2 separate regions of the Homo sapiens genome follow, and region 2 is linked to region 1. The links come from fine-mapping of genetic effects on plasma protein levels. A gene starts in region 1. The other region holds a variant in brackets. All regions are shown on one strand. Distances are between the middles of the regions.

Region 1 (5,339 bases):
ATACTTTTTATCATCATGGATGCCTTTGTCATCACCTTCTTCATATACATACTCATTATAACCCATCAAGGTCTGCTTATTACAAGACCAGTTCTGTTCATGTTATACAAAGTGAATCTACTAACCAAAAGCATTTCTTGAAATTTGGCTAGCCTTAGGATAATTACCTTTGGAAAAAATACCTTATAAATGAACAAGAGAGATAGAACAAACACAAATAAATCATGTGAATGACAGTGATAGACATACATCTGAACTGACTCTATAAAAGAATTGCTTGGTTGAAGAAGTATGTGGGGCCGGGCGTGGTGGTTCATGCCTGTAATCCCAGCACTTTGGGAGGCCAAGGCAGGTGGATCATGAGGTCAGGAGTTCAAGACCAGCCTGGCCAATATGGTGAAACCCCATCTTTACTAAAAAAAAAAAAAAAATACAAAAATTAGCAAGGCATGGTGGCGCACGCCTGTAGCCCCAGCTACTCAGGAGGCTGAGGCAGAAGAATCGCTTGAACCCAGGAGGCGGAAGTTGGAGTGAGCAGAGATCGTACCTCTGCACTCCAGCCTGGGCAACAGAGTGAGACTTTGTCTCAAAAAAAAAAAAAAAAGAAAGAAAGAAAAAGTGTGTGGTATTTTTGTTCTGTGTCAATGTAGCTAAGCTGGAACTACATTCCCCTGAATTATCTTCTCCTCTTTATCATCAATGAATGAGCATTAGCTCTACCTCCTTCTTCCAGTATGTCCCAGCTACAATCCTGATTTGAGACATTACTGTGCTTGACCATCACTGTGCTTGGGCACTGTGACGACCATTCCCTAGATTCACAGGCCCCAAGCTCAGCTCTCTCCTGGAGGGACGGAACAAATGGCTGGGCCACAGCCAGCTCCGAGGGAAGTCCCTTGTCCCTGACATCCTTCTCCAACACCTCAGATCCAAGTTATTTCCTATCCAAGAACACAGAGAGAACCAAAGGGAATCCTGTGACTGTCTCTCTGAATTTAGTTCACGTGGGGGCTGTGGGGCCAAAACATTGCTTCCTCTTAAAAAGTCTGACATAGAAACCATTTCTAGCTTCTTGATAGCCCAAGGCTTTCACAAGTGTCCCTTCTTTGTCACATATCACCAAAGCATGTCCTTCAGGTTTACTGTAAAAATATGAATGTCCACTTTCAAATACAGGTAAGAACTCTACATGCGACTTGGAGTGAAATAATTGCTTTAGTGTTACAGTTGTTTTAGAACTTGTCTATCAGGCTTCCCAATTTTTGCTGGAAAGCCCCTATATGTAAAATTTTTAAAAAATTAATTGCTTTATTTGTTGATATTTTGTCAACTAATTAAAGGATAGAAGTATATTTATTATTACAGCAGTAAAATATTATAATAATGATTGTAAACATGTTTTTAAGCACAAAGCAATTATTAAGATTTCTTATTGTAAAATAAAGTAAAAGATTAATAGTTAACACAAATATTAGGAAAAAACATTTTGGCTAGATAACTTTCAGAAGAGCATCATTTTCTTTTCTTGTTTTTTTTTTGTTTTTTTTTTTTTTGAGAGAGAGTCTCACCTTATTGCCCAGGCTGGAGTGCAGTGTCTAGTGTTGCCATCTTTATGCCCATGAGTACCCAATATTTAGCTCCCACTTAAAAATTAAGAACATGGGGTATTTGATTGTCTGTTCCTGCGTTAATTTTCTTAGGATAATGACCTCTATCTGCCTCCATGTTGCTGCAAAGGACATGATTTCATTCTTTTTTATGACTGCCCATCATAACTTTAAACAAATTAACTTTGTTATTTGTGTTTAATTTTAATTATTTAATTTCACAGAAGGCATGGCTTAATCAAGATCCATATCTTGCTCCTCCTCTAACCCCAATAATGAGCGAGCTTGGATTCGGTGCCCCAATGGACAATACAGTGACTATGGAAGCAATCTAGCCACTGACAGATCTGTGAAATTATTCCTACAGTCTTACAATGCAACATTTTTAAAGTTTAAATACCAAAATTTACAATAATAAAATTTGAATAGCAATCTCAACTTATTTTTGCATTCCAGAGATTTAGTCTATGATAGCGATTTCTATCTTTGGTCTTATCTTTTGTTGAATAGCTTTTTGGTTGTGTTTTGTTTTGTTTTTTAATATTTGGCCTTTTTGCATTGGGCCAACATGTATACTTGGTAGACCTTTAGTTTTATTCCATCTACTCATATCTTCTATTCTCACAATGCTGACTCTTTCATCCAGGATTTCAAATTCTCAAGTTCCAAGCCTGCAAATTTGCTTTTCTATTAGCTCTTAGATAAATCGCAGGACCCTACTGCATGGCTCCTAATCCAAACAAGCAAAAAAAAAAAAAAAAAATACACCAGAGGAAAGTTTTTCCCAAGAAATAACAATAGTACTATTGTATTTCTTTATGACTTTATCGGGACTTTCATAAACATTGTCTCCAATTCCTGATTCCCAGACCTCTGGACCTATAATTTCACCACAAGATAAGAAAAAGGAATTCACTTTGGCTGAACTGTTAAATATGTTTAAATAAGGATTTCTAAACATCACCCCCAGGTCTTTTTCTTCTGTATTTTCCTCTGGCCTTCTATTTATTTGATGTCTTTCAGTTAGGTATTACACCTCTTCGTTTAAATTACATTTATATTACCCCCGTTCATTTGAAAAGATAGCTTCATTTACAAAAGTAATGAATTTATTGTCTTACCTTCATGTTTGGGAAAACATTCAGGGCAGAAGAGAGGAGGAAGATTTCCTCTGTAAGGGCCGGGTAAGTTTTCAACAGCAGGAAGAGCCCAGCAGGCTGCCTGCCTCTCTGCCTCTCCCTGCTCTAGATTATCTTGGCACTCATATATAGAGCAAGTGGTCCTGAGATTTAGCTCCTACCCCAACCGGATTCTCCAACGACAGCAAGAGCCTGACCTTGTACTTAATCTGTGCCTTGAAACCAGATGCATCTTATCAATTACACAGCCTTAGCTACAGCCAGCTGGGACTGTTTGGAAGTTATAGATATGTTTCTTAGAAACATATCTATAAATCAGGAAACACAGCAAATGTTCTCAGTTCAATGTTTAAGTGATTTTCAACCAAAGGAGACTCTGTAAGGCAAGGGATGAGCCTCCTTCTTGTTTCAATCTACTAAACTAAGTGGATGTTTTCATGATTCTCTTAAAAGGTGTTATATGCCAGACTTTGAGATTAAATATTTTATGAAAGAAAATATTTAAATGCAGTTCTGTCACTCAAAATCTAAATAGAATGTTCTGGAGTAGAATTTTTCCCCAAAGTACAGCCTAATACAACCCAATAGTCATCCCTTCATGCTTAACTTTCACAGAATAATCAGAAAGAATATCAATTTTTGTAAACATATTTGAGGACATCACTAATTTTCTCAAGAACTTCACTTAATCCTTTGATAATCAGATCACTGTGTTGGAAAGTTCTTCTCAGGGTCATTATCCACATCCATTTTCTCTCCTTTGCTTTTTATCTTGTCTTATTCTACCAGGTCTTTATTTTCCCATAGCTTTGCATTGATTCTAGCAAGTCCCCAACATCACCTTCATACATTTAATAAAATGCTGCTTATTTTGCAAGATTTTAGATTTCCTATTGAAACTGAGCTACAGTTGGCCAGGCGCGGTGGCTCATGCCTGTAATCCCAGCACTTTGGGAGGCCAAGGCGAGCGGACCAAGAGGTCAGGAGTTCGAGACCAGCCTGGACAATACAGTGAAACCCCGTCTCTACTAAAAACACAAAAAAATTAGCCAGGCATGGTAGCATGCACTTGTAGTCCCAGCTACTCAGGAGGCTGAGAGAGAAGAATCACTTGAACCCAGGAGGCGGAGGTTGCAGTGAGCTGAGATCGCACCACTGCACTCCAGCCTGGGAGACAGAGTGAGATTCCATCTCAAAAAAAAAAAAAAAAAAAAAATTGAGCTACAGTTTTATTTGTATTGTTGGACCAAATATTCTAACACTAGCTGCTAGTGCATTATGAGTGAGGTAGAATAAATGTTAAGCGGGAAAGAAAATTTGAGTTAAGAATAATTTTATAAGTAAACATTCCATTAGTGAAGATTTTCTAGCTTTAATGACTTTTTCTTCCTATATCCAAAGCACTGGAATAATAAAGACAACCCCTATCCTCCCCTCATAAATTAATGGTGGTTTCCAGAGACAAAGCTTCCGCATCTTTTGTTCAAAGCTTTAGTGATTTGTGTGGAAGAAATTTTGTCACAGAGACAAAGATCCTGACTCCTGAAAGAAATATTTTTTATTCAGCTCCAACTGCATAAATTCCAGATGCCATAGACTCATCTTAAATTCTCAATATACAATTCCATTTCAGCGGCTCTCTTAGTTTGGGTTCCCCCAGAAGTAGATTCAGAAACAAGAATTCAATTGCAAGTAGTTTGTTTTTGTTTTTGTTTTAAGAGATAATCTTAGAAAGCACCACTGGAAGTGGGAAAGTGAGATTGGGGAGAAAAGAAAGTCAATAAAGGGTGTTTTATCAAGCAAGAGACTCCAGTGGGCAATTTGAGTTCAGTTCTAATGAGGAACTCTGAAAGACATTGCACACGAACTCTGCAATTAAGAGTTAGTCCAGCCAGGTGTGGTGGTTCACACCTGTGATCCCAGCACTTTGGGAGGCTGAGGTGGGTGGATCACTTGAGGTCAGGAGTTCAAGACCAGCCTAGCCATGATGGTGAAGCCCCATCTCTACTAAAAATACAAAAAAAAAAAAAAGCCAGTTATGGTGGTTCATGCCTGTAATCCCAACTACTCAGGAGGCTGAGGCACGAGAATCACCGGAACCCAGGAGGCAGAGGCAGCAGTGAAGTGAGATTGCACCACTGAAGAGACTGCACTGCTGAAGAGCAGCCTGGGTGACAGAGCGAGAGCCTGTCCCCCAAAAAAAAAAAAAAAAAAAGAGTTAGTCCAATTAAGGGGTAAGGAAACCCATCGCTGATGATGAAGGTAGCTTCTGAACCCATTGGCTCTCTGGCACTACCAGCTTGCCCTGGGGGCAAGCTAAGCACACGCCTGCAGCCATAAGTAAAGGTTTTCAAGCAGGGAATTGTAGCATTTGCAATATTTGCAGGTGTTTACCTTTGTCATTTAGAGGCGAGCGATGAAGGAATATGGGTAGGGTACCAACAGCATCTGCTACAGTAGCTTTTTATTTATATATACATGCATGTATTAATTTTTTCATCCTGAATTTGATCAATATTTTCTAAAATGTGTAATATGATAGGCTATCAGCTTTGACAGGTAGAAGCCTTAAGCTATATCCTTCCTTATTTTT
Region 2 (5,378 bases), 73 kb before region 1:
TTCTGGCTTAGTGTTCTGAGAAAGAAACAAGCCATTCTGTTTCTAACACAAGTATTGAGTACGCTTTAACTAGTCCATCAAGGAAGAAAAATCTCAGTGGACTGGTATGGCTACTCAGTTCTGCCAATCCCATACTAAGAATGGCCCAATTTATCTCTCTCTTTCTATCTCTCCTGCCTCCCCTTTTCTTTTCTCTTCTCTTCTTTGTCTATCCGCTCTACTTCAGAGAAGAGAAAGAGAAGTATTGGATACCCCTGAATACCCACTTCATCTTGTGCCCAAAGTATGCAATATCTTAAGTTTTCTTCAAGTTTATGATGATGACCACTTCCACTAGCTATTATGCTGTGAAAATAATCCAAATGCCTGTGGTGGGTGAGTATGTGTGTATAAGTGAGTAAGTTTGTGTGTATTATGTGTGAGTATGTGTGTATTATCTCCAAATAATCCAAATGCCTGTGGTGGGTGAGTATGTGTGTATAAGAAATGTGAATAGGAACATAAAGAAAATACAGAATAATGATAAACCATGGTGCCGTGGTTTGCATGTGTTTCCCAAAGTTCATGTGTTGGAAACTTAACCTCCAATGCACGTGTTGGGAGGCAAGCCTTCATAAGAAGTGATTAGGACATGAGGTCTCTGCTGCTATGAATGGATTGTGTTGTTGTAACGGGAATGGGTTAGTTATCATGAGGGTGCTTTTGTTATAAAAACGAGTTCAGCCCCTGCTTCCTCTTGCTCTCTCTTGCCCTTCCACGTTTTGCCATAGGATGATGCAGCATGAAGGCCCTGCCAGATGCCAGCACCATGCTCATGGACTTCCCAGCCTTCAGAACCAGCAGCCAAATAAATTTATGCTCATTATAAATTACCCAGTTGGTGATATTCTGTTATAACAGCATAAAACAGACTGAGACAGGACGGGTTCAAAAAATATTGATTAATACACATACCTTGACCGAAAGAAAAAGTGATTACTAATTGGACACATAAGTGGACACATAATAAGCCGGGCACATAAATGGACACATACTAGGCTGTTTCAGGGAATGCTGTATAAACCAGCTGCTCAGCACTTGCAGCTCTTAGCAGTTACAAAACAACTAGATGGTTCACAAGACTCATGTGAAGCTGAGATTAGCCATGATCTGCCCAGCAAAGAGGGCAACCCTCAATCAGATTAGCCAGTTACCTGGCTAGTTGCTAGGTAATCCAAAGTTCCGGGGGTCACTTGTCAGATTTCCTGCTTGGCACTCCACATCCCTACCATACCCTACCTGAATACGAAGAACCCTCCTTCTCTTTCAAGGTGATTACAAGTCATCCTGCACTGGGAAAGAAGGTTACATTAATAACAGTTTGAATGGGGCTCATTAAATCTCAGGGCTTAGAGAAGCAGCACTACTTTTGATCAATTAGGAAATACATAAGATGTCACAGGAAGGCACTTCTCAAAACGATTAGGAAATATTCTCAGGCACCTTCTCTGCCCAGGTAACTTGTAGCGTCCTCATGAGTGGTAAGCGATGATCTGTAGGATGTGCCTTGGCCTCCACATAGCTCCCTGAAGCTAGTGATGATTAATGCACCAGCCAATTTCCTTCTCTTTGTCTGTTCCTTCTGAGGGCCAAATGACTCTAATCTCAGCAATGCTTTCTGCCCTCTGCCTCCTCCAAGGCTCTATCCCCTTCTAACCCAGATGACCCTCACCTGATCTGAGGCACAGGAAAGGGCAGGAAGATGGAATTCTCACAGTCTTTATTCTTTTTCCATTTATTTTTGTGGTATAAAATCATTCCCTTAACTTTCCTCAAAGCCTCTCCATAGGTGTTCAAGAACTTATTTTGGAAGTTTCAAAACATTTTTAAAAATTTAATCTTAAAAATGACTTTCTCCTTGCTGACCTGCTGCGACAATCCTAATTCTCCACAGGCAATTGTGAATGCCTCTGTTGGACTAGAGGAAAGGTCAGCACAAGAATGTTCAGAAAAGAAAAGGAGGAAAAAAATACAGTATTTCAAGACAACACCTCTTCACGACAACATTCACTGCTCCTCTCCTTCTCCTCTCCTTGACTTCTCCTTCAATAACTCTGCTGAAATTCCTTTCTCAAACCTCTTAGTTACATCTACTCATTTCCTTTCTTTCAAACCTCAATCTCTGATGATATGTGATAATGCTGACCATATCCTCTGTATTATTTAGGAAGGGGGCATGGTGATACATAAGCGGTAGGAATCTAACTCCATACTAGCTTAAGCTAAGAGGAGAAATTATTGGAAGGATACTGAGGTATTTCCTTCCAAATGAATTACTTGTTCAACCTTTTGTCTCAGGGTCTGCATCCAGGCCTAGCATGTTCAAATGTGTCCTCCCATCCAGGGTAGAAATTAACTCTGTAATAACCGCTAACAAATGCAGTTGCAATGTCTGAATGTCATTGTTTTTAACCAATTGAAACCTGCCTCCTTGTAACTTCAACATATTATATCTGCATCTTCCCTTAGGGCACACTTTGATACAAAAAGCTAGATCTGGATCAGACATAAAACTTCAGGCAAGAACACATTAACC[A/C]TTCATCATGAAAATCTTCTCTAAAATGAAACATCATACAAATGAAACAATTCTGAAGAATAGCATCTTTAATGAGTGTTCTAATCCTTGTCATCTGAAGTTTTGAAATATATTTACCAGGGTCAGAACAATACAGAGATAGTATTTGTATAATATAGCTTATTTTAAATTTCATTTAAGCCCTCTCATTTCTCCTCCCACAGCTGCTGTTTTGTTTTGATGAAAGAGAAATAAGGAATAAATAAAAGGTCAATGCTTCAAACTAATCTACCTGTGTACTCCCTGAAAACTCTGGGACTGTATCCACAGAATAGGGAAAACTATTCTCAAATGCACAGTCACTCATGCCTCAGGCATGAACTGATGTTCTTTCAAAAGAAAAAAGAACAGGGGCAAACTTCCAGTCCTATGTTTGACACATACTAAAACCCCAAAGAGAAGACTGAATTGTATTTGTTCTCAGACAAGACACCCCTGTGACCACAGCATAATGAATTCTGCTCTAACATTTTAGTGGTTCAATCTCCCGACAAGAGTAAGTATTCCAGCCAGGCGTGGTGGTTCATGTCTGTAATCCCAGCACTTTGGGAGGCCAAGGCAGGCGGATTACCTGAGGTCAGGAGTTGGAGACGAGCGTGGCCAACATGGTGAAACCCCATCTCTACTAAAAATGCAAAAATTAGCTGGGCGTGGTGGCGGGCACCTGTAATCCCAGCTGCTTGGGAAGCTGAGGCACAAGAATCGCTTGAACCCAGGAGGCGGAGGTTGCAGGGAGATGAGATCACCCCACTGCGCTCCAGCCTGGGCAACAAAGTGAGACTCTGTCTTAAAAAAATTAAAAAAAGAATAAGGAATTCCTATCTGTGGTGGTTGACTCTATAGGATGAAGTGTGAGATTACTACTCAGGATAGAAATAGTTTGTATCTGTCATTTTTGTTCAAGTCCTCTTTATATTTGGTTCCATTGAGGAAAACCACCCTCTCTAATCAGGAGATCACGTTCTTTCTGTTATCCTAGTCATTTTGTAGAGTGTGTTCTGGCCCATGGGCTGTGTCAATCATACTTAATAAAATGATAGGCCTGAATGGAGCATTCAAGTTTCTCTAGTGCAATCCTCTAATTTTACAGATTTTAAAAAACCAAGGCCCAGAGAAGGTAACACCTATTTCAAGAACACGCAGCCAGCCTGTGCAAAGGCTCATATCCTTACTGACATTAAAAAGGAGGCAAAAGAGTAATTCGATTCAGATTTGGGAGAACAAAGGATTGTGTTTATACAGATGGCTGGGAGTTGAGGAGGAAGGTAGACACTGGAGAAGAAGGAAAAGCTGTCCAGTGCCCAGTTGTGCAGATGTTTTCACTCAGCCCCAGCTGCCTGCTGGATTCCAAGCAAGCTGACCAGGGCCTCCAGGAGCCTACTGGGTTTCCGCAGCACAAGGCCTTATGCTGGTGACAGAGATGCTCTGCCCTCTGCATCTCAGAGCGCCCGCCTCACACTCAGACATCGTCTGCTCCTTGCCGTTCACTTCCACACAAATGCTAAACCCTTCTTCCTCGCACTCCGATGCTTCTCGGCAGACACATTTGCTGCTCTCAGCTGGAAAAGTAAGTGAAAGAGGCTTAATGGTACATTGTGGAGGTCGGGGAGTCAAAGAACATCACCTCCAAAGTAATAATGTGGTGATCAGAGCTGTAGAAGCTCCTGCCTGGAATGACATAATAAATTATCCCCTGGAAAAGCAGTAGGACCAGGAAATTGGGGCATTTTGCTCCACTCCAAAGAAATAGGTTTTGAGGTTGGTAGCAGGCTTTATATTGGTTAGACCACATGGGGTGGTTTTATCCAAGTCAAGAGCTCTTCAACTATCTCCTACATACATGCTGCTGTCCATATAAGCCAGCAACTGAGGTCAAATGAGAAGCCCTCAACAAAGAACCAAGTCAAGACTCAAACAAAGAGAGAGAGAAAAAAAGAGAACTTAACTTGCTTTGAGAGAGAGCATGGCATGCAAAAGGCTACAAATCCCAAAAAACAAACCAGAAATGAGTTAAGGAGGCAAGGAGTCTGTGCATGGAAAGTCCATGGTTGGAATACACCAGCCAGGAGTCTTCCAAAGATGAGTAACAAGGTCAGCCAGCAGACAATGGTGACCACCTAACCAAAAGTGACCCAGACATGGCTAGAGTCACATATGTATGTCATCAGTCTGTGCTGCAAACCTTGAGGGAGTGAGGGGACAGGTGCCAGCGGGTACAGGCCAGGAGGGCAGAGAGTGAAGAGACGACAGAGACCTTACAAGTCATAGAGTCCAGCTCCTAAATTTACAGATAGGGAAGCCCAGACAGTGACTTGGCTCTGGAGACCCAGCCATTCCACTTTCATAGTACTGCCCAAATCATGGGAGGTTTGCTGTGCTCTTGGGGGAGTTCAAGATCACTGTAAGTACTACTTAAACATAGTGTTAGCAAATATTGAATCACAACGTGAGAAAGTAACTTCTTCTTTTATTCTCTTCAAATCCGTCTGATTACTTCTAGAAGAAAGTGTCAGCTTGGTGCTAGTATGTTTTTAACACCCCTCTAACACTTGCTAAACTCACAGAGAAACAGCATAGTCAATGTTGGACCAGTATCTGGCTAGAGTCCACAACTTTATTTAGTTCCATTACATATAACTTTTATAGTTACCTAGTATTTATGGCAAGTGATACCTCCTTTTAAGGACATGATATAAAGTTTTCATTTTTAAGTTATTTTTATGTCAGACTTTTAAAAAATGAGTACACAATATGGATAATACAA

Direction of the effects. Alleles are on the strand shown, and positions count from the first base shown. The strength of an association depends on the size of the effect and on how common the allele is.
With allele C in place of A in region 2, the plasma level of the protein whose gene starts at base 2,848 in region 1 is lower (strong association).

What was found. A credible set is the group of variants that fine-mapping cannot tell apart. PIP is the posterior inclusion probability: the model's chance that the variant is causal. The UK Biobank Pharma Proteomics Project read protein levels with antibody pairs (Olink). The fine-mapping took linkage between variants from a reference panel, not from the people measured, so its PIPs are less certain.
Region 2: its variant is the best candidate, but not a certain one, in a credible set for the plasma level of the C7 protein (UK Biobank, PIP 0.71).

Annotation. Positions count from the first base shown.
Region 1 is chr5:40,907,006-40,912,344 of GRCh38, reverse strand. C7 (complement C7) reads right to left here and starts at 2,848. Exons shown (of 18, transcript NM_000587.4): 1 at 2,729-2,848. The coding sequence starts at 2,734. It also overlaps the pseudogene RNU7-161P.
Region 2 is chr5:40,980,187-40,985,564 of GRCh38, reverse strand. It overlaps C7 (complement C7), which reads right to left. Exons shown (of 18, transcript NM_000587.4): 18 at 922-4,173. The coding sequence ends at 3,992. Among named protein-coding and RNA genes, the nearest start is that of C7, 73 kb to the right of the region's middle. The variant A/C (reference allele first, on the strand shown) is at 2,576.